3 linked regions of the Homo sapiens genome follow. The protein of the gene in region 1 interacts with the protein of each later gene in a biochemical or structural test. Each region holds a gene or a part of one and is shown on either strand. Other genes may lie near its edges.

Region 1 (7,163 bases):
ACAGGTGCACACTACCACGCCTGGCTAATTTTTGTATTTTCAGTAGAGACGGAGTTTCACCATGTTGTCCAGGCTAGTCTCAAACTCCTGACCTCAGGTATCCACCCGCCTCGGCCTCCCAAGGTGCTGGGATTACAGGTGTGAGCCAATGCCTGGCCACATCTCTCTTTTCTAACAACAAAAAAGTGTGCCAGAAGAGCCAAAGTGGTGCTACCACAGGCTTGCCCAGTTTATTTTAAAAAAAACAATTACTTTTGGCCAGACACGGTGGCTCACACCTGTAATCCCAGCACTTTGGGAGGCTGAGGCGGGCGGATCACCTTAGGTCAGGAGTTCGAGACCAGCCTAACATGGTGAAACCCCATCTCTACTAAAAATACAAAAATTAGCCAGACGTAGTGGTAGGCGCCTGTAATCCCAGCTACTCAGGAGGCTGAGGCAGGAGAATCCCTTGAACCCAGGAGGCAGAGGTTGCAGTGAGCCAAGATACCCCCACTGCACTCCAGCCTGGGCGACAGAGCAAGACTCTGTCTCAAAAAAAAAAAAAAAATTACTTTCGGCTCTAAGTTTCTTTTTCTTTTTCTTTTTTTTTTTTTGAGGTGGAGTCTTGCTCTGTCACCCAGTCTAGAGTGCAGTGGCACGATCTCGACTTACTGCAACCTTCACCTCCTGGGTTCAAGGGATTCTCCTGCCGCAGCCTCCCAAGTAGCTGGGACCACAGGTGTGCTCCACCACGCTCAGCTAATTTTTTGTATTTTTGGTAGAGGCAGGGTTTTGCCATACTGGTCTTGAATTCCTGACCTCAAGTGATCCACCCACCTTGGCCTCCCAAAGTGCTGGGATTACGGAGGACGTGAGCCACCCTGCCCGGCCATGGCTCTAAGTTTCTTTGTTTCACTTTCCTTGCTTCTAATATTAAAGATCTGTCCATCTGATTTATGAAACTTACTATTCAGATAAACTGCATGCATCAGAACCAAGACCTCTTTTTTTTTTTCATCTAGTTATCACAGTTCAGAAGACTGGTAGGCACAGTTTATGATACTTCAATGAGAAAGAGACAAGAAAAGCAGAAGTATTTTTGAGGGGCAGTGTTGAACAAGCATAACTTTTTTTCTTCTTTTCCTCTGTCAACTGAGTCGTGGTTTTTTGTTTTTGTTTTTTTTTTTTGAGATGGAGTCTCACTGTTGCCCAGCCTGGAGTGCAGTGGCACGATCTCGGCTCACCACAAATTCCGCCTCCTGGGTTCAAGCGATTCTCCTGTCTCAGCCTCCCGAGTAGCTGGGACTGTAGGCTCACGCCATCACGTCTGGCTAACTTTTGTATTTTCAGTAGAGACGGAGTTTCGTCATATTTGCCAGGCTGGTCTCGAACTCCTGACCTCAGGTGATCCACCCACCGCGCCCTCCAAAGTGCTGGGATTACATGCGTAAGCCACCGTGCCCGGCCTGAGTTGTTTTTTAAACAATTTTAAAAAAAATTATTTTAGAGGCTAGGTGCCGTGGCTCATGCTCGTAATCCCAGCACTTTGTGAGGCTGAGCAGGCGGATCATTTGAGGTCAGCAGTTCGAGACCAAGACTGGCTAACATGGTGAAACCCCGTCCCTACTTAAAAAACTACAAAAATTAGCCAGCTGTGATGGCACACACCTGTAATCTCTCAGCTACTTGGAGGCTGAGGCAGGAGAATCACTGAAATCCGGGAGGTGGAGGTTGCAACGAGCCAAGATTGCACCAGTGCACTCCAGCCTGGGCGACAGAGGCAGACTCCATCTCAAAAAAAAAAAAAAAATTAGAGACAGTGTCTCATCTGTCATGTAGGCTTGAGTGCAGTGGCATGATCACAGCTCACTGTATCCTCAAACTCCCGAGCTCAAATGATCCTCCTGCCTCAGCCTCCCCAGTAGATGGGATTACAGGCGCATGCCACCAGGACTGGTCGAGCGTAACATTTGATTTAGACCTAAGGCACTAAGGAAGAGGAGCTAAAGAAGTAGTCAAGGCACATTTTGAAGGTTTCATTTTTCAATAAAATTTCCAGGTTTTTATTTTTTTTCTTTGGAGACAGTCTCCCTCTGTGGCTCAGGCTGGAGTGCAGTGGCGTGATCTTGGCTCACTGCAACATCTGCCTCCCAGGTTCAAGCGATTCTCATGCTTCAGCCTCCTGAGAGGCTGGGATTACAGGTGTGTGCCACCACACCTGGCTAATTTTTGTATTTTTAGTAGAGACGGGGTTTCACCATGTTGGCCAGGCTGGTCTCGAACTCCTGACCTCAGGTGATCTGCCCTCCCCCACCTCCCAAAGTGCTGGAATTACAGTCATGAACCACGACGCCTAGCCCCTCCCCCGCTTTTTACTGATCAACTTTTGTTAAGCATTCTGTGGTCCACGGAAGAAAAAACCAAACACCAAAGAACAATAAACTTGTACAACCAGCCTTCCAGCCATCAATATTCTGGATTCCAGAATGATTGAGGCTGGACTTTGTTAATCATCGAAGGCTGGTATCTGAGAAACTCTTCCTCTCCCTTACCTTTATAGGCCACTTTTCTTTCAGTAATGCTGAAACACTGACTTAATAACAGTTGTCCCCTGGTCTAGCATTTAATAGGTAATCCACAATTTTTGCTGAATGTCAATAGCTAAACGTTAGTGACCTCTTAAGACTGTCTGGCAGAGTAAATCTTCGGCTTTATATCACATTCTCCGACCCAAAGGGCCAAAAATAGGCAAAGCTCTCTCCACTAAATCGGTTTCCTAAATTGGGGATCTCAAACTAGTAAAATTTCAGAAAACTTTCGGAACTTTTGTCAAGAGCATACTAAAAAAGTTTATCTTTTGTCGTTTACTATCATTAAAGCCATAAAACAGCATTTTACAAGGAAATTTTAAAAATTAAGAATAAGGCATAACTCCCTTCCAGAGAGGTAGACCCAAAAATATTCTGAAGTTTTTGTAATGCATTAAAATGACGGCATAACATTTTATTAACACTCTGTTACGTTTCTTTTTTCTTTTTTTTTGAGACAGTTTTGCTCTTGTTGCCCAGGCTGGAGTGCAACGGTGCGATCTCGGCTCACCGCAACCTCCGCCTCCCGGGTTCAAGCGATTCTCCTGCCTCAGCCTCCCAAGTAGCTTGGATTACAGGCATTCGCCACCACACCCGGCTACTTTTGTATTTTTTAGTAGAGACGGGGTTTCTCCATGTTGGTCAGGCTGGTTTCGAACTCCCGATCTCAGGTGATCCGCCCTCCTGGGCCTCCCAAAGTGCTGGGATTACAGGCATGAGCCACCGCGCCCGGCCACATCGTTATGTCTCATTGTAAATCCGTTTCTGTAGAAAATCCTTCCACATGGGTTAAAGGACACAACTCATTGTTACTTTATGGGATTAAGAAAAATCTGAGTAAGGCCGGGCACGGTGGCTCACGCCTGTAATCCCAGAACTTTGAGAGGCCGAGGCGGAGGATCACTTGAGCCCAGGAGTTCAAGACCAGCCTGAGCAACATAGAGTCCTCATCTCTTCAAGCCGAGCGTGGTAGCGCGCGCCTGTGGTCCCAGCTGCCCCATAGGCTGAGGTTGGAGAATCGCTTGAATCCCGGGGTTGGAGGCTGCAGTGAGTCGAGATCGAACCACTGCACTACAGCCTGGGCCACAGACCCCCGTCTCAATCTCGGAAAAAAAAAAGAGACTCCATCTAAAAAAAAAAAAAAAAAAAAAAAGCTGAGGAAGTCAAAGCCTTCACTCTTCATTTCTCCTTCCAAGAGGACAGGGCCGGCGTCGGTCAAGGTCAATTGGCAGGTGAGTTGACAGCGCCGCCACTAATCGATGAAAACGCCCCCCGCGAGCACCCAGCTGCTCATGGCCTCCGGAAGCGGACGTAGGGCGGGTGGGGTACAGCTCCTAAGGAGAAACGGAACCGCAGGCACCGTCCCTCTCCCGCTGCAGCCTGAGGAACGCGTTCCGAGGAACCCCTAGCCACAAGTCAGGACCGCGTACAAGATGGCGGCGCGTCACGTGGGCAGCGCGGTGACGCAGGACGGCGGCCCGCGCGGAGGCAGCGCCATAGCCTACCCCAAACGCACACTAGTGCTCAGTTTTGCCCCCCTCCCCTCCCCCGCCCCCGCCCCCGCCCCCAGGCTTGTGTAGATCATGCCGCCAGTAGCGGCCCTGACTGCCGAGGAAACGGTAGCTTAGGACAGTTGGCTGTTAAGTGACACTGATTCTCCCCGCCCCGCCTGACCCCCGAGAAGGAGGCTTGTCCCCCGCTGCGTGAGGGGGTGGGGAAGTGGGTAGTGAATTCGGATCTACCTGGGAGGGGGGAGTGGAAGTTCCCGCCCCGGAGAGCGGCGAGGCGGCAGCCACAGGTAAGTGGGGGGCGGGGAGGGACGTGCCCCGTGGCCCGGGCGGGGAAGGACGCGGGAACGTGGCGCCGGCGGGGACGCAGCGCGGGTCGCGCGCCTGGTGGGGGTCGCGCGCGGTGGTGGCGGTGGGGGAGGGGCGCAGCGGCAGGGGGAGGGGCCGCCCGCGCTTCCGGCCTCCGCGCCTCGGTGCAGAGCTGCGCTGCGCCCTTCCAGTCGTGCGTCTCCTCCTTTCCCTCGCCCCCAAATAAAAGTAAAGCCCGAAACCGCCCGCCGCGGGGTGGCTTTCGCCTCAGAAGCCGCCCTTTGCAGTCGCAGGCGCTAGCTCTCCGTGGGAGGTCTCGAGGTTGGGCCCGGAGCCGGGCGGAGGGCGGCGCGGATATGGCCTCGGCGCGGTGTCCGCCGAGCGGAGCCCGGGTCTGGTTAACCCCGCGACAGGGTCCTCGAAGCGCGTCGGCGCTGGCGACCCTGAGGGAAGAGGCGCGCCCCTTACCCTCCTGGAGCTTGCAGTCTAGCGGGCAACCGACGCACGGGCATTGCGCACGCCCCAGACAGTCCTGGAGAGATGCGCCTGGCAGCGGAGACAGAGTGGGGACAGTAGGCGGCTTTACCCCTGGCTAGGAATGACACAAGGGCGTCTGTACCCTTTGGGATGGGCGACCCAGCCGAGGGTGACTTTCTCTTTGATCTTGTATGTCAAAAAACGAAGCCTGGCATTTCTCACTTTGATCGACGCCGTGCAGCTGGCGGCTGAATCGCTTTGAAATGATTGCAATGTGAAATAATGTCTGGTTGTGGCGCTAGTGTTTTGAAGAGATTGGGCAACTGGTAGTCTTTGAGAACCTTTAGGGTTCAGAAGCTCGGCGTGGATCTGGCAGGCATCTTTGTCAAACTGGCCTCACCTGTGATGAGTTCGTAGGCATTTATGTCTCAGAATGCATTTTAACCTGAGGTTTTTGTTAACAGAAATGCGTTCTTCTAAAATGCTCTTTTTTCTTGGAGTTTATCATATGCAGTTATCTCCGTGTCTTAATTAGAATCAATACTGTTGCCCTAAAGTCGAATGTATTAGCTCTTTAATACTTGCCGTTATCTTTTAGGGTTAGGTTTGGTCTGTGAGCTATCTGTCCATTCCTACCCGATCACCAGCAGGTGGCAGTCCCTTCTGACTTTAAATATAGGGTGTGCTATCTTTGCCAGTTTTTGTTTTGTTTTGTTTGTTTGTTTGTTTGTTTTTAAATAGAGATGGTGTCAGAGGCGTGTGAACTAGAACAACTCCATCTTAAACAGGAGCTGGGTAAAATGAGGCTGAAACCTACTGGGCTGCATTCCCAGACAGTTAAGGCATTCTAAGTCACAGGATGAGACAAGTCAGCACAAAATACAGGTCATGAAGACCTTGCTGATAAAACAGGTTGCAGTAAAGAAGCCGGCCAAAACTGAAATGGCCACAAGAGTGACCCCTGGTCATCCTCACTGCTACACTCCCATCAGCGCCATTTACAAATCCCATGGCAATGTCAGGAAGTTACCCTATATGGTCTAAAAAGGGGAGGCGTGATTAATCCACCCCTTGTTTAGCCTATCATTGAGAAATAACAGTAAAAAGGGGTAACCAGCAGCCCTTGGGGCTGCTCTGTCTATGGAGTAGCCGTTCTTTTTATTCCTTTACTTTCTTCATAATGTTACTTTTACATCGCACTGTGGACTTGCCCTGAATTATTTCTTGCGCGAGATCCAAGAACCCTCAGTTGGGGCCTGGATCAGGACGCCTGTCCTGTAACATATTTCTGGCGACCACAAAGGGACTATAGTGCAGAAACCCTGACCCAACGGCTACCTTTGGGTAAGTGTTGGGGTCCTGTAACGTATTTGTGGTGGCCACAGAAGCGACTATACTGCGGAAACCCAGTATTTATGTTTAGGAGTCTCTCCTAAGACAGTGGGTTCGAGGCCCCTCTTAATAAAAGGCAAGGACGCTTAAGCTTGACTGACCTTGGGTTGGAGGCCCTTCTAAGATATAGGGAGTTAGAGTCCCTCTCAGGTAACTCCCTCTCAGCTAAGAACAGGTTTGGCACTATGGGATATTAACTGCTGTTCTCTTTGGATTAATCTGCCTTGCGCTCTTTGCTGATGGCTGTGGGTGACAGAGTTAGGCATGAACAGGATCGTGGGACATGGGGAGCTTTTTCCTCTCTAAAAGGGGAGTCTTTTTTTTTTTTAATTTAAGTTTTAGGGTACATGTGCACATTTTGCAGGTTAGTTACATATGTATACATGTGCCATGCTGGTGCACTTCACCCACTAACTCGTCATCTAGCATTAGGTATATCTCCCAATGCTATCCCTCCCCCCTCCCCCCATAAAAGGGGAATCTTGAGAGCTGATGGGACTGCTGGAAAAGGTCCCTTTGCTGCGTACAAGCGGCTGCCTGAGGTTTTCATTGTCGGCTGCAATGAGTGGGTCTTTTCTCTGGCCTCCCTAAGCTCTTCAGCTTCCCCACCCTGCCACAGGCAATACTTTTCTTATCTACTTTGCGTTTCTTATTTTTTCTATTACTCAGGGCAACCATCTTACCTAGAGGCCACATGTTGAAACTCCAAGTCGGAGGTTGAATTAAAGATGACAGGCCCATCTGGGGGCAAATTTAAGCCTTGCTAGTTTGATATTGGGTGCTAAGCGGAGTGGCTAATGTCTTTGTTTTATCACACGTATTTTGCTCTGGCCAGAATGGAAAAAACATAATTTTCCTTTATGATACGGCTTGGCCCCCAGGGCAATGATGCTGCAAGCTTGAACAC
Region 2 (6,990 bases), on another chromosome or scaffold:
TGTACCTGGCACCTCCTCTCTTGCCCCACTATCTGCTCACATGACCCTCTGCAGGCCTGTAAGCTGCTGGAGGCTCCGAGTATGCCTCATTCATGTCTATCCCCCTTACTAGGCCCAGACCATGGAAGACACTCAATAAAAAGTAAGTGATTAAATGACAACCTCTACGGAAAAGAGTATGGAGATTTCTCAAAGAACTAAAAACAGAACTACCTTTTGGCCAGATGCAGTGGCTCACACCTATAATCCCAACATTTGGGAAGGCTGAGGCAGGTGGATTGCTTGAGCCCAGGAGTTCAAGATCAGCCTGGGCAACATGGTGAAACCCTATCTCTACAAAAAATACAGAAAATTAGATGAGACTACAGGTGGCACACATCCATAGTACCAGCTACTCCAGAGGCTGAGGCGGGAGGATCGCTTGAGCCCAGGAGGTCCAGGCTACAGTGGGCCAAGATCACGCCATTGCACTCCAGCCTCAGTGATAAAGTGGCATTCTGTCTCAAAAGAAAAAGAACTGGCCAAGCATGGTGGCTCACGTCTGTAATCCCAGCACTTTGGGAGGCCGAGGCAGGTGGATCACATGAGATCAGGAGTTTGAGACTAGCCTGGCCAACAATGATGAAACCCCATCTCTACTAAAAATACAATAATTAGCTGGGCGTGGTGGCGGGCGCCTGTAATCCCAGCTACTCAGGAGGCTGAGGCAGGAGAATCATTTGAACCCGGGAGGCAAAGTGAGCCAAGATTGTGCCACTGCACTCCAGCCTGGGCAACAAGAGCGAAACTCAGTCTCAAAAGAAAAAGAAAAAGAGAGAAAAGAAGAAAGGAAAAGAAATATCATTTGATCCAGCAATCTCACTGAGTATCTAACCAAAGGAAAATAAATCACTATACCAAAAAGATACTGCATTTTTATGTTTATCACAGCACTATTCATAATAGCAAAGACACAGAATCAACCTAAGTGTCCATCAACGGATGAGTGAATAAATAAAATGTTATATTTTTATATATATATATATATATAATGAAATACTATTCAGCCATAAAAAAGAATGAAATTATGTCTTTGCAGCAACATGGATGGAATTGGAGGCCATTATCATAAGCGAAACAATGCAGAAACAGAAAGTCAAATACTGCCTGTTCTCATGTATAAGTAGGAGCTAAATAATGTGTACACATGGACATAGAATGTGGAATGACAGACACTGGAGACTTGCAAGGGTGGGAGAGTGGGGAGGCATGGTGAGGGATGAGAAATTACTTAAAGGGCACAATGTACACTATTCTGGTGATGGATAAACTGAAAGCCTAGACTTCTCCATTATGCAATATATCCATGGAACAAAACTGCATTTGTACCCCTTACATTTATACAAAAAAGTGATTAAATGAATGAATGAATAAATAAGCATATAAACAAACCAAAGCAAGACAATAACACACACGAGTGAATGAATGAACACATCAAGCAGGGCCTAGATCTTGTGGAGTGGATAACCTTACACCCCACTGCACCCAGTCAGCTGGGGCTTGGCCTTCTTGATGGGGAAGTGGGAACAAGGATGGAACTGATGCCAAGCCAACCTGTCCCTCCCCTCCTTTTTGGGAGAGGCCTTGGTCAGGTTCCTAGGGAGCCCTGAGGACCTGTGGCCTGGAGCCTTTGGAGAGTCCCAAGTGCAGATACAAAGTCAGTGAAGGTGGAAGTCAAGTAGATCTAATGGTGAGCCCAGAGCTGTGAAATTCTGGTGTTTGCTGCTAATGAAAAAACACTTGTGGCCTAGGAATCCACTGGCAAGAAGGCAGGCCTGTCTTAGTGGAGTGGGAATTTAAAGCAAGGGGTTAGATTATACAGGGGAGGACACTGAATGTTCAAAATTCCTTCCCAGCAGAGGGGACTCACCAGAGATCACTGGGCCAGAAAAACAACAACAACAACAACAACAACAAAACAAAAATGCCTCTACTCATCCCTCCACCCCCCAGAAAAGATCAGGAACTCTCTGAAGGCAGGGGTCTTGTATAATACTTTTTTGTTTTCCCAGCGCTCAGCTTAGAGCCTGGAACTCAACATTGGGAAGATGCATGGATGGACAGATAAGTGGATAGACAGATAGATGAATGAGTGGATGGATGGATAGATGGATGGGTAGATGAGTGGATTGGTGGATGGGTGGATTAGTGAATCGGTAGATGTGTGGATGAGTGGATGGATGGATGGATGAATGGATGGATGGATAGATAAGTGGATGAGTGGATTGGTGGATGGATGAATGGATGGATGGATAGATAAGTGGATGGGTGGATTTGTGGATGGCTGGATGAATGAGTGGATGGATGGATAGGTGGATGAGTGGATGGATGAATGGGTAGATAGCTGGATTGGTGGACAGGTGGATGAGTAAATGGGTAGATGGGTAGATGGGTGGATAGGTGGATGAATGGATGGATGGATGAATGGATGGCTGGATGGATGAGTGATACCAAAAAGATACTGCATTTGTATGTTTATCACAGCACTATTCATAATAGCAAAGATACAGAATCAACATAAGTGTCCATCAACGGGTGAGTGAATAAATAACATGTTATATTGTATTTATATATATATATAATGAAATACTATTCAGCCATAAAAAAGAATGAAATTATGTCTTTGCAGCAACATGGATGGAATTGGAGGACATTATCATATGCGAAACAACGCAGAAACAGAAAGTCAAATACTGCCTGTTCTCATGGGGCTCCTGGAAACCGAAGCTGATAGGTGAATGGATGGATAGGTGGATGAATAGATGGGTGGAATGGTAGGTGGGTGGATTGGTAGATGGGTGGATGAGTGGACTGGTGGATGGATGGATGAATGAATGAAGGGGTAGGTGGATGATGGATGGGTTGATGGACAGATGAGTGGATGGGTAGATGGGTGGATGAGTGGATGGGTGGATGGATGGACAGGTGGATGAATGGATGAGCAGATTCATAGATGGATAAACAGATGGAATTGTGGACTGATGGACTGATAGCAGGTGGACGGGCTGATTAATGGACATATAGATGGTTAGATAGACAAGTAGATAAACAGATGGGTGGGTGGATGAATTGACTGACAGATGAATGAACAAACAAACGGACAGTTGGATAAATGGACACATAAGTGAATGCATGGTGGGCTTGATGAATGGATAGCTGGATGGACAAATAGACAGACAAATAGATGCATGGGAAAACAGATGAATGGTGGATAGGCAAGAAAGGTTTGTAAACCAGGAGGGTTAGATTGATATTCAGGCATTGCCAAGGGATGGGGAAACTGAGAAACCTGGGCTGGAAACAGAGCCCTAGGGATTTGAATGTGGTAATCAAGAAGCTGGGAGGGGAGGGTATAAGAACCCAGGACCCTCTTCTGGTGGTAGGGAAGCCCATGTGAACAGATTCAGAGGGAAGGAAGAAAGCAGCACTATGCTGAAGACCCTACACCTGAGCCCAGCCTCAGCCTAGGGATAGCCTAGGCAGTGGGGGTGCAGGGCCACAGGAAGAGCCAGGCCTGATAGCCTGCTAGATCAGAGCCCTCACCCAGGAAGGCTGACTCCAGAAAGTGGAGGCCCCAAGAGGCCACCCCTTCCAGCTCTGACCCCAATGAGGTGACTGTTGGCTACATAGGGATCTCAAAAGAAGCAGGCATTTGTTGGGTTAGAGCAAAAGCCTCCCAGTGGTGTGGCAGAGCTACACGTTCTCCCTCCCATCCTCCCTCCCCAGCTTAGCCCCCAAAGTCATCCCTCTCAGTCCCAGCTTCCTCTGGGCAGGGGGCCTGGACCCCATGGCTTCCCAGGCCAGCCCTTTGAGCACCACCTGCCCCAGCCGGCCAGAGACTTCCTGTATGTAGCGCAAGAGATTTATGCAAACGGGTTGGGGCGGTGATGTCACCCCAAGGGGACTATCTCCCAGCGGCAGGCCCTTCGATAAAATCAGGAACTTGTGCTGGCCCTGCAATGTCAAGGGAGGGGGCTCACCCAGGGCTCCTGTAGCTCAGGGGGCAGGCCTGAGCCCTGCACCCGCCCCACGACCGTCCAGCCCCTGACGGGGCACCCCATCCTGAGGGGCTCTGCATTGGCCCCCACCGAGGCAGGGGATCTGACCGACTCGGAGCCCGGCTGGATGTTACAGGCGTGCAAAATGGAAGGGTTTCCCCTCGTCCCCCCTGTGAGTACCGGGACTCCTCCACCAGCCCAACCCGTGGCCCTCGGACGCCTGCCTGCCTGCCCACGAACCCGCCAGCCCACCCACTGCCCTCCTGGCTTGCTATCAGTGGGAAGTCAGGGTTTCCTCCCTGGAACTCCTGGCCTGAGACCCAGCGAGGGGGCCATTGGCTTCCTCGGAGCATGCCCTGGCGGGCTGAGGCCAGGCCCACGGTGGGGCTGTGATCGGTGGGGCCTGAACAGTTATTTATAGACAGGGCTCGGGTGGCAGGCGGAGGCCGGGGCTCCTGGGGAGGGTGCTGGGCTGAGGATGGTGAAGGCGGTGGTAGAGAGGTAGAGGAGGGAGATGGGGGGACTGGCTTGGGGGAGGCCGGTCCCCTGGATGGGAAGGGGTTGAAGGCAGGAGGCAATGGGCAGAAGTCTTGGCCCATGGCCTTGGGGCTCCTGGAAACCAAAGCTGATGGAACTCTGGGTCCCCAACGCCCAGTCTGGGGCCTGGCACAGAGGACATGATTGTTGACCAAAGGGTCAGGGCCATGGGCCCACAGGGGTACCCACAGGAGACAGGGACTGGTGCTGGAAAGGAGCCAGGAGTGGAGCTGAGACAGTGCAGTTAGGGCTGGCCCCAGGGCTGGAGTTCAGGGAGAGGCGCGGCAGGGGACAGGGCTGGGACAAGGCCAGGACTGAGATTGGGGCTGGGTGGGACCTGGGGTGAGCATGTGATAAGTGAGAATGGGGGCTGAGGCTGGGACAAGGACAGGGACTGGGTCTTGGGGGTGAAGAAGTGGGAGCCCCAGGGGACCCCGAGAAGAGAAGGGCAGATCGCCACTGCTCCTCACTCTCAGTGACAGTTGCAGCCTTAGGCAGGTGTCAGACCAGGGTCCCTCGGAAAGGACCCTTCTCCCTTTTCCCACCCCATGACCTCTCAGGAGTGAGGAGGCTTGAGGGGAGCCGGGAAGGGCTTGGCAGGCTGCCCACCTGAATCCACTTTCCTGGTCTAGAGGCAGCTCCCTTCCCCCACTATGCCCTGGCTCAGAGCCACCCCAGGAGGCTGGGAGGCACCCCAGGCCTGACATCACACCAACCCGACCAGAGCCGGGCTGACATCCTGCAGCGAGGCTGTACTACCTGGAAACCCAGAGGGGCAGGCTCAGTGCTGGGCTCCTGGCCTCCTCACTTGGCCAGCCACAGGCAGGACCAGGCAGGACCAGCCAGCCTGCTGTGGCATCCACACCGACACCCCTTCCCACCTGGGAACACGAAGTGGGCGGCCCAGGCAGAGGGTGACGGAGGTTGTCTCAGAAAGAGCCAATTCTGCCTCAAGAAAGCCACAGGCCCACTGTCTCTGATCCCTGACCTCTCAATTCTGAACTCCAGGTGGAGCTAGATGGGTGGCAGAGCTCCTTGGGCCATCCCTAGGCACCCCCAGCCCTCTCTGCAAGCTCCAGGGTCACTCTGAGTGTCTCCTGGTAGGGTGGGCTCCCAAGGCAGCCCCGGTCCCCCAAGCCCAGCCCTAAGGGCCACAGTGACTGTTATGCAATCCTGGGCCACACGCTGCGGGGGCGGGGAGGCCTGATGACTGTTGGGAAGGCTCCTGGGTGTGCACGGCCCTGTGTCTGTGCCAGTAGGGGGAGGAGGACAGGGAGGAGGGAGGAAGGTGGGAGGAAAGAAGGAGGACAGGGAAGAGGGGGAAGAAAAGGAGGACAGAGGGGAGTGAGGAGGGGGAGGAGGAAGCAAAGGAGACGGGGAGGGGGATGCAGTGAGGAGGGAAGGAGGAGGATAGGGAGGACTCAGGAGGGAGAGTGAGGGGATCAAGGCCCTCCATGCGCTCGGCCCCTAAGTCTGCCTGGGTGACCCCTGCACCAACCGTCAGTGTGGAGGGTCATTGTGGTGCCACTCTTGCCCAGGCTGTGTGAGAGGCATAGGCTGTGAGAGTGGGGCTGGGCAGGCAAGTGTGTGCTGTGCGGTTGAGTGTGCAGGTGGAATGTGAGTGGCTCTGGGGGTGTGAGTGTGTGTGTTGATGGCTGGAACGTGGTGTCATGTGAGTGTCAATCAAGGAGACTCTGCGTGTGTGCATGAGCTGAGTGTACAATGTCTCTGTGAGGTGGGTGACCTCTGAGTGGGTATGAAGATGTGTGTGTGAGGGATAGTGTGCAGGCGCCTGCATGGGGGTGGGTAGGGGCTGTGAGAGTGAGTCCTCGTGTGGGATTATGAGTGTGAGGGTGACACAGGGATCGTGTGGACATGTGCATCAGTGTGACCAGGAGAGGTGTGTGGGATGAGGATGGGGGCACACAGGCGTGAGTGTGAGTGTGAGCGTGAGGTGGCTATGGGGAGTAGCCCAGCAGAGGGGGACCCTGGTCCTCTTCTGACCTCTCACCCCCAAGGTCCCTGTCACCCCTTTTCAGGCCTTCTGGGTCCCCTGCCCCACTCTCTGTCCCAGTTCCAGGCAGAGGGAGGGCTGTAGGTCCAACGCAGCCACTGAGCCAGGGAAGGTGATGGGGACCCAGCGTGCGGGGGTGCTGCAGGCCTGGCTGGGGTCTCCCACCATGGTGCAGGCCCTGACACCTCCTCTCTCAGCAGCCATCAGAAGACCTGGTGCCCTATGACACGGATCTATACCAACGCCAAACGCACGAGTATTACCCCTATCTCAGCAGTGATGGGGAGAGCCATAGCGGTGAGTACGGGGCCTGCCACGCCCCCATCCCCCAGCCCAGCCTGGGCTCCTGGGGTCTGGAGAGAGAAAAAGAATAAATGATTCCCAGGACTTCTTTGGAATTCT
Region 3 (7,191 bases), on another chromosome or scaffold:
GCTCCTACCAGGACCCTCTCCACCTTTTTTCAGTTCACTGGATTCACTATGGAGCATCTTGAAGGACTGTAGGGTCTGTGAATCTCCTCCAAACCCTTGGGCCAGAAGAACTGTGGGATTTGGAGAGGTTGCAGGGTCCACTCCCCACCCCCATCCCCCTCCCAGTGTGTGCCCCCAGGGTCCCCAGAAAGGAGTCTAGCTCTGAGATCCTGGGCAGGGATGACAGACCCCTGGCCTTGTTGAAGGGCCTGAACGATAGCATCCAGGGAAGACAGGGCTCAGTTTGCTCTGCCCAGAATGGCAGAGGGCAAAAGAAACCTGAAAGCAAAACCCTGTGAAACTGGGGAAAAAACGTTAAGTTTCAGATTTCAGGGCAGTCACTTCTCTGTAGCTTTCCTGAAGGGAAGCCGGGCTTCATGAGTGCAACTCTGCCAGCCCCCTCCTGAGTTGGCCAGAAGCCACTTTCTTGGAATGGGGGTAGGGGGGATGGATACCTTATAACCCACTTTGAGGGCTGGGATACCTGGATAGCCTGATATGCGGCCCCTGTGTGGACCACTGACTTGCCAGTAGGAACTGTCCACTGTCTCATTACTATGAAGACAAAAGGACTTTGCCGCTGCCAGGCAACAGAGTTACAATTTTGAACTTGGGTCTCTTATGGGGCCAAATCCCAAGCTCTCTACCAAAACTATACTTCTTCCCCCTCACCATGACTATTCAACTGAACACTTACTATGTGTCAAGCACTCTCAGCAATTTGCAGCCTCATGTCATTGTCACAACTACCACATATTATCTCCTCTTTACAGGTGAGAAAACTGAGGCATGGAGAGGTTACAATATAACTTAGATCTCCCAGCTGGCAAGTAATGGTTTAAGCCAGGAGCCTACACACTTCCTCCTACTTCCTCTATGGGTGCTGGTGATCTGCCGACTCCTAGACATCCAGCTTTAAGGTCCTCAGTGAAGCTTCTCTGCCCCCAGGCCTGTCCATGTCAGAGCACCATGGGTGTCCCTTTGAAAGTATCTCCTACAGGTCAGTGATTATGCAGTCTATGTGTAAACCAAAGGGTTCCAAGGGTTTTGGCCTTCCAACTATTTTTGTGTGTGTGTGAATATGACAGCACTGTGCACCTCACCTGCATGCTGGGAACAGTGATGTGCCCCTGTTCTGCCCCAAGTACTAAGTTGGGTCCCTCTGGCCAACTTAGTACTTAATTCTCCTGCCCTGGCTGCTCCCTAGAAACCCTGGCTCTGATTGCTGGGCCCACACTGCCACCTAGCGGTGCCCCCTCTCATGCCCTCACTAGCCAAATTTCCATAGATTCTTCTCTTCTAGGATAATCCCTCTCCTGCACCCCAGGGATTGAACTTACTGCAAGATTCCCCTGCCACTCCCTACCCAGAACAATCACAAGATGAATCACAAGAATACACAGCAGTGCCTTCCCAAAAGTCTCGCTCATTTGGCCTCCATCCTCTCACCATGTACAGCCTCCCCTCTCCAGTAAGGACAGAGTGTGTGTGTGTGTGTGTGTGTGTGTGTGTGTGTGTGTGTGTAGGATTTAGCCCCCCTCACTTTAAGCTATTCCAAAGTCTCTGTCCCCTTGGACACACAGCTACATGAAGGGCTGTGTGGCAGAGTCTGCCATCATGAACCCACTCCTGACCAGACCTAGCCATCCTGCATGCCAAATCCTCCCATCATTGTGGAGGGGATGCTGCAGGTGGTTGCTGGAACATGAGCACTAAGGGAAACCACATATTCTGACTTTCCTGGGCTAAGTGAGTAGTTTCAAGGCATCTCTCCGATGGACCCATGTGGGGAATGCGTGTGCCTGTGGAAGCATGGACACTGGTTATAGGGACTGGGAGGGGAGAAGCAGCACCTTTGCCTTACTTTTCATACTTCTGTATAATTTGAATTAATTACAATGAGGAAGTTTTACTTATGCAACTTAAAATTTTAATAAAAGAGACCAGCTTAAAAAATACAATTATAAAATTTGTAGAGCAATTATAATCTAATTCCATTTTAAAGAAAGAAGACATCTTCACAGAACATTCAGTGGGATGCCTTTGGCTGGGGCAAGGAGCCAGCCTCCACCCTCAGCTGCCTAGCCTTCTGCTCACCAGAATGACATCTTGCTCAGCCTCAGGTTCACCAGGCTCAAACTAGTTGCCTTCAGAGAGCAGAGAGCCTTCTTTGGCTCCCCCCAGCAGTAGAAGATTCCAGATCATAGGGCTTTCAAAGAGGCTCTGAGATCTTGAATCAGATTCTCAGGTTGGGCTCAGGGACATCAATCCTGGGTCCAGCTGGGCATAAATGCATGTGTGTGTGCACATGTGCATGTGTATCTGTGTGCATGTGTGTTATATGCATGTGTGTTTATACGTGTTATATGCATGTGTGTGCACATGTGTAAAGGTGTGACTGCATGTGTACATGTGTGAGAGTATGTTTGCACATGTGGCTGTGTGAGGAGCCAGAAAGGACTAGGAGAGGAGGCCATGGTTTGAGGATAAGAGCCCAGCCCTGAGGTTGTGCTTTGGAGTTGGAATGGGGGCTCTGTCATGACAGCTGCTGACCTCAGACAGGTCACTTAACCTCTCTGGGCTTTTCTGTCCTGTGTGTCTGTAGTGTGGGGCAGAAGGGATAGTGTGACCTCCTCTAGGCTCTGTAAGGTCAGGGGGTTGCAGGGAGAGCACATTCCCAGCATCTGGTCTGCAAGAAGTGTTCACTATGGCCAGCTGAGGCTATTGTCTGGAGCCTCCTGCTTCACTGAACACTGCTAGCTTGAAGGTTGCCTGAAAGAAATAGGGGCAGAGCCCCAACCCCATCTCCACTCAACATCTGCACACAGTGGGTACCCACTAATAAGTTGTAGCACCCTTTCAGTCACTCATTCACTCATTCATTGACAGAAGATCATCTTTCCAAGAGCTACTTCTCTGATGAGCCTGCACATGCAGCCCAGGGGTCCGTGAGTGTGCGTGTGTTAACCAGAGGGGCTGAGGGGGAGGCGCTCACTGGGCCTAAATTCCGGAGCCAAGAGTAGGATGGCTGGAAGACGCCTCTGAGTGGAACCGAGGTCCTGGTACCTGCAGTCCTGTAGATGGCCTGTAGATGACAGCAGAGGCCCATGCAGAGCCCCTGCGCTGAGCCGCACCTTCCCAGTTCCAAGTGAGCCAGCTCGCTCAGGTCCCTCAGCTTCCGGATTGGGGGAGTGATGTGATGTGCGCAAGTAGTTCAGATCTGTCCCAGAAGACAGCCACAGCCACCCTCCCTATGGCTCTAGACAAGTTGTTTTCTCCCCAGGGGTCCCAGTTTCCTCATCTGTGAAATGAGAGTTGCTTAACAGCCGGTGTTGGGAAAACTGGCTCAAAATACGTAAGGTAGTCTAAGATGGGCTTAACAGAGACTTATATGTGCAAGGCAAAACTAGAAAGCTAATGGAGAATATCTGTCACTCGGATGGGAGACAGAGACTTTTTAAACACGACGCCAAAAGCCCAAACCATAAGGTGAAATGTTGGCGGATCTGATCAAATGGCAACTCGGGATTTCTGGTCCCCAGGATGCTGTATATACCAAAGGGAAGCAGCGAGTCAAGGGCATAAGCGGGAGCTGCAAAAAGGGGGCAGTCGCCAGTGCTGGAGACTCCCAGAGCCACCAGAGACTAAAGAGTGGCGAATTCAACAACGACAAGATGCCACCTCCCTCGGCATGTTTAAAAAGTTGAGTACGCTGAGGGTTGGCCAACACTAGGCAAGTCGGAAGCCTAGCAAGCCATACTGGAGGGCCACCTGGCAGCGTGCAGAGCAAACACCCGACTCAAGGAGAGCTTTCAAGAGAAATAAGACGTCCTGCGCTGTCACGTTCTAGGTTGCGAGTAAAACCCGGGACCCGCACAGTAGCGGACTGCCAGTACAGGGGCCTCCCTGGGTGTCCCTGGAAACCGAGGAAGTAACCGCCCCCTCGGGAAGCCACGCCTCCTATTTTGTTCCGGCTCGGGGGCGGGACCCAGCCGGGGCCCGCCTGGCCCTTTAAGGCTGACCTAGCGGGGCCCCAAGTTGGGATGACGCGCAGGGAGCGGGGGGTGGAGTGGGGGAGTGGGGGAGGGGGGGGTGGGGAGGGGGGGGAGGTCACGTGGGCGCCGGCAGCGCGACTCTCGGCCCTGGGATTTCTGCGGCCGCCAGCTCCCGCGACCGCCTCTCCTGCCCCTCGCCGGTACCTCAGCAAGGTGCGTTGCCGCCAGGTACGCCCTCGCTGGGCCCCCTCTGCGGCCTCCTCCGGGGACCTCGCGGCCATTAGGCGCCCGGCCCCTTCCCTTCTTGACACGTGCCCGGGCGGTGCTCGCTTGTACCCCGCCGCGCGACCACCGCCCCTTGCTGCACGTCTGTACTCTCAGGCCGTTCGTCCCGCACTCCCAGCTTGCCCCGGGCTCGCAGCCCAGCCCAGTTCAGAGGCTCCAAGGCTGGGGTGTGTTGGAAAAGTCTGGGCGGGACTCACTCTTCCCCTTTCCCCCAGGTGCCACTAGAAGCGCCAGGCTGGGGCCGCCTCTGAGCGCCCCGCGGGGGCCATGGATGGTGAAACAGCAGAGGAGCAGGGGGGCCCTGTGCCCCCGCCAGTTGCACCCGGCGGACCCGGCTTGGGCGGTGCTCCGGGGGGGCGGCGGGAGCCCAAGAAGTACGCAGTGACCGACGACTACCAGTTGTCCAAGCAGGTGCTGGGCCTGGGTGTGAACGGCAAAGTGCTGGAGTGCTTCCATCGGCGCACTGGACAGAAGTGTGCCCTGAAGGTCAGTGAGCCCTCACTGAGGCCTGGGGTATCCTGGAGGGTCCACAGCGGAAGCCTGTGAGTGAAGCTATGTCTAGCGCCCCTGCTAAGCTTCCTATGCTCAGCAACATGTTTCATCGTCATACTGTCCTGTAAGGTCAGGCTTGTGGTCCTCCCTACTTCACAGATGGGGAAACTGAGGCGTAGCCTAGCTAAGCTTTGAGTGTCCCAGTGAGCAAGGGGTGGAGTCACTATGGCTAGAGATGCTGTATCCGGAAGCAGGGAAGGGGTGACTCCTGACTCTGGGATTCTGGCTGGACCCATGTGTTCAGGCCCAAAGGGGATCTCTTGTTCAGCTTGGCTGCCCCTTCCATGTGAAGCTCCTCTGACTGGAATGGATCTGTTTCCCTTTGCTGGAAGCTGAGACCCCACCAAGGCTTGGGTGGGACTGCTTCTTCCCTGTGGCCCCTGCCTGTCTGGGCTGGAGTGGTGTGAGCCTCCCAGGGCTGGCCAGAGGACAAGGCTGATGCCCACTGCACCTGTGGAGCCTCAGGAGGCTGCTGATAGACTCCTGACGAGTCGCTGGTCCCGTGTTGAAAGGGACAGGCCCTGGGCCAACCCACCCCTGGTTCCTGGGCAGAGGGCGGGCCAGCCATCTAGCCACCTCAGACTATAGGCTCCCTGGAGACCTGGCATGCTGATATAGGTGGCATGGTGGGGGTCAGGGGGATGCTGGGGGCGGGTACCTGGTTCCAGCTTAAGGCATACAGTTCTGGGCCTAGGGCCACACCCCATACCCAGAATCCCTTGAATCTGTCATCTCTGGGGTCTTTACTCATTTGTAGCTTGTGCCAATGGATGGGTAGAGCATGGCAGGGATAGTGGCTCCTGGAGGCTAGAAGTACAGCAAAGGCCCTTCTCATTTTACAAAAGATTTTTTTTTTTTGAGGCAGAGTCTCACTCTGTCGCCAGGCTGGAGTGCAGTGGCACAATCTCAGCTCACTGCAACCTCCACCTCCCAGGTTCAAGCGATTTTACTGCCTCAGCCTCCTGAGTAGCTGGGACTACAGGCGTGCGCCACCACGCCCAGCTAATTTTTTGTATTTTTAGTAGAGACAGGGTTTCACCATGTTGGCCAGGATGGTCTCGATCTCTTGACCTCGTGATCTGCCTGCCTTGGCCTCCCAAAGTGCTGGGATTACAGGCGTGAGCCACCGTGCCCGGCCTTTACACAAGTTTTAATTATGAGTCCAAGTGCAGAGTCCTCTAGATATGGCTAATAGCTATCCTGTGTTTGCCAGTTTCATGACCTTGGATGATATCCTAGACTCTGGAAGCCAGGTTTCTGCATCTATTCATGGGGAAAGATAAGGAGTTGTTGTGAACATGAAATGAGATTATACATTTAAAGCACTTGGTACAGGACCTGATACAGGTCTGGAGAGGTTACAGGACTTATTTAAGGCACAAGGTCTTAAAGCATCTGAGCAGGGAGCTGGACCCAGCTCTCTGTGTCTTTCCCAGGACCACTAGGGCCAACAGAGGAGGTTGTCTCCCCGGAGTACCTTGGAGGGGAACATGCGGGTGGGTCTAGGAGAGGATCAGGGTTGGGCTGGTGGGGCTGGGCCCCAGGTATAGCTTCTTTGCCCACTAACCCAGCAGTCGAATGGGGTCGGGGAGCTTTTCAGAGTATCAGGAATGGGATTCTCTGAGTCTTTTAGGGAAAAAGTGGCTCTTCTGAGGGCAGACGGGGGTAAGAGGATGAGGAATGAGAGTTTTCATCCCCCTCTGGGCACTATTTAACCTTCCACCTGTGCTAGGATTGAGGGCAGGCTGGGTGGGTGAGGGATTGAGGCCAGAGACCCACTTCTTAATACCAAGGCTTTGACCCTGTGGGCCAAGACTGAGCTCTGACCAGCCCCTGTGGTGTCCAGATGCTGTGGGTGAGTCAGGGATGGGGTGGGAGACCAGAATTTGTAGGCCCACACAGTGCCAGCTTTAAGTAAGACTGGACTTAACCCCTTCCCCATAGATGCTATGTCTGATGAGTGACTTGGGGTAACTTCTGACTGCAAGAACTTCCACAGCACCTCATCAGTGCTCTCCTTGTTCTGGACTGGGAATTGGGTCAGGCCTGGAGTGGATTTCCCTCTGTACCCCTTTATGGGTGAGCATGGCTAAGGCTACTAGCTTGGGACCTTCAGGATCTGGCCCTAAATTGGCCCTCAAAGGGGACATGGATTAGATGTGGCTCCCACTCCAGGACCTTCCTGTTCTTAGTATCACTAGTGACCAAGCCTAGAAGTCCTTACCCAGCTAAGCAGGCATTTACTATCTCCCAATATTGGGCTAAGCACAACCTCTGGTACAGTTATTTTACCTGTCTTGTGAGTGGTAGCTGTGGCCAC

What was found. Proteins that work in one complex are often made in the same cells at the same time.
Region 2: the proteins of ATF1 (region 1) and SPI1 form a complex in vitro, tested with the Homo sapiens proteins (one study listed by BioGRID).
Region 3: of the proteins of ATF1 (region 1) and MAPKAPK3, one has a biochemical effect on the other in vitro, tested with the Homo sapiens proteins (one study listed by BioGRID).

The regions. Positions count from the first base shown.
Region 1 is NC_000012.12:50,759,940-50,767,102, forward strand, and holds the start of ATF1 (cyclic AMP-dependent transcription factor ATF-1), read left to right. Parts: upstream 1-4,161; 5' UTR 4,162-4,368; intron 4,369-4,387; exon of another isoform or gene 4,388-4,465; intron 4,466-4,530; exon of another isoform or gene 4,531-4,615; intron 4,616-4,639; exon of another isoform or gene 4,640-4,985; coding exon of another isoform or gene 4,986-5,053; intron 5,054-6,111; exon of another isoform or gene 6,112-6,208; intron 6,209-6,749; exon of another isoform or gene 6,750-7,163.
Region 2 is NC_000011.10:47,375,528-47,382,517, reverse strand, and holds the start of SPI1 (transcription factor PU.1), read left to right. Parts: upstream 1-3,970; 5' UTR 3,971-4,164; coding exon 4,165-4,209; intron 4,210-6,785; coding exon of another isoform or gene 6,786-6,788; coding exon 6,789-6,885; intron 6,886-6,990. UniProt on the Homo sapiens protein: Pioneer transcription factor, which controls hematopoietic cell fate by decompacting stem cell heterochromatin and allowing other transcription factors to enter otherwise inaccessible genomic sites.
Region 3 is NC_000003.12:50,612,980-50,620,170, forward strand, and holds the start of MAPKAPK3 (MAP kinase-activated protein kinase 3), read left to right. Parts: upstream 1-4,171; 5' UTR 4,172-4,262; intron 4,263-4,534; 5' UTR 4,535-4,586; coding exon 4,587-4,805; intron 4,806-7,191. UniProt on the Homo sapiens protein: Stress-activated serine/threonine-protein kinase involved in cytokines production, endocytosis, cell migration, chromatin remodeling and transcriptional regulation.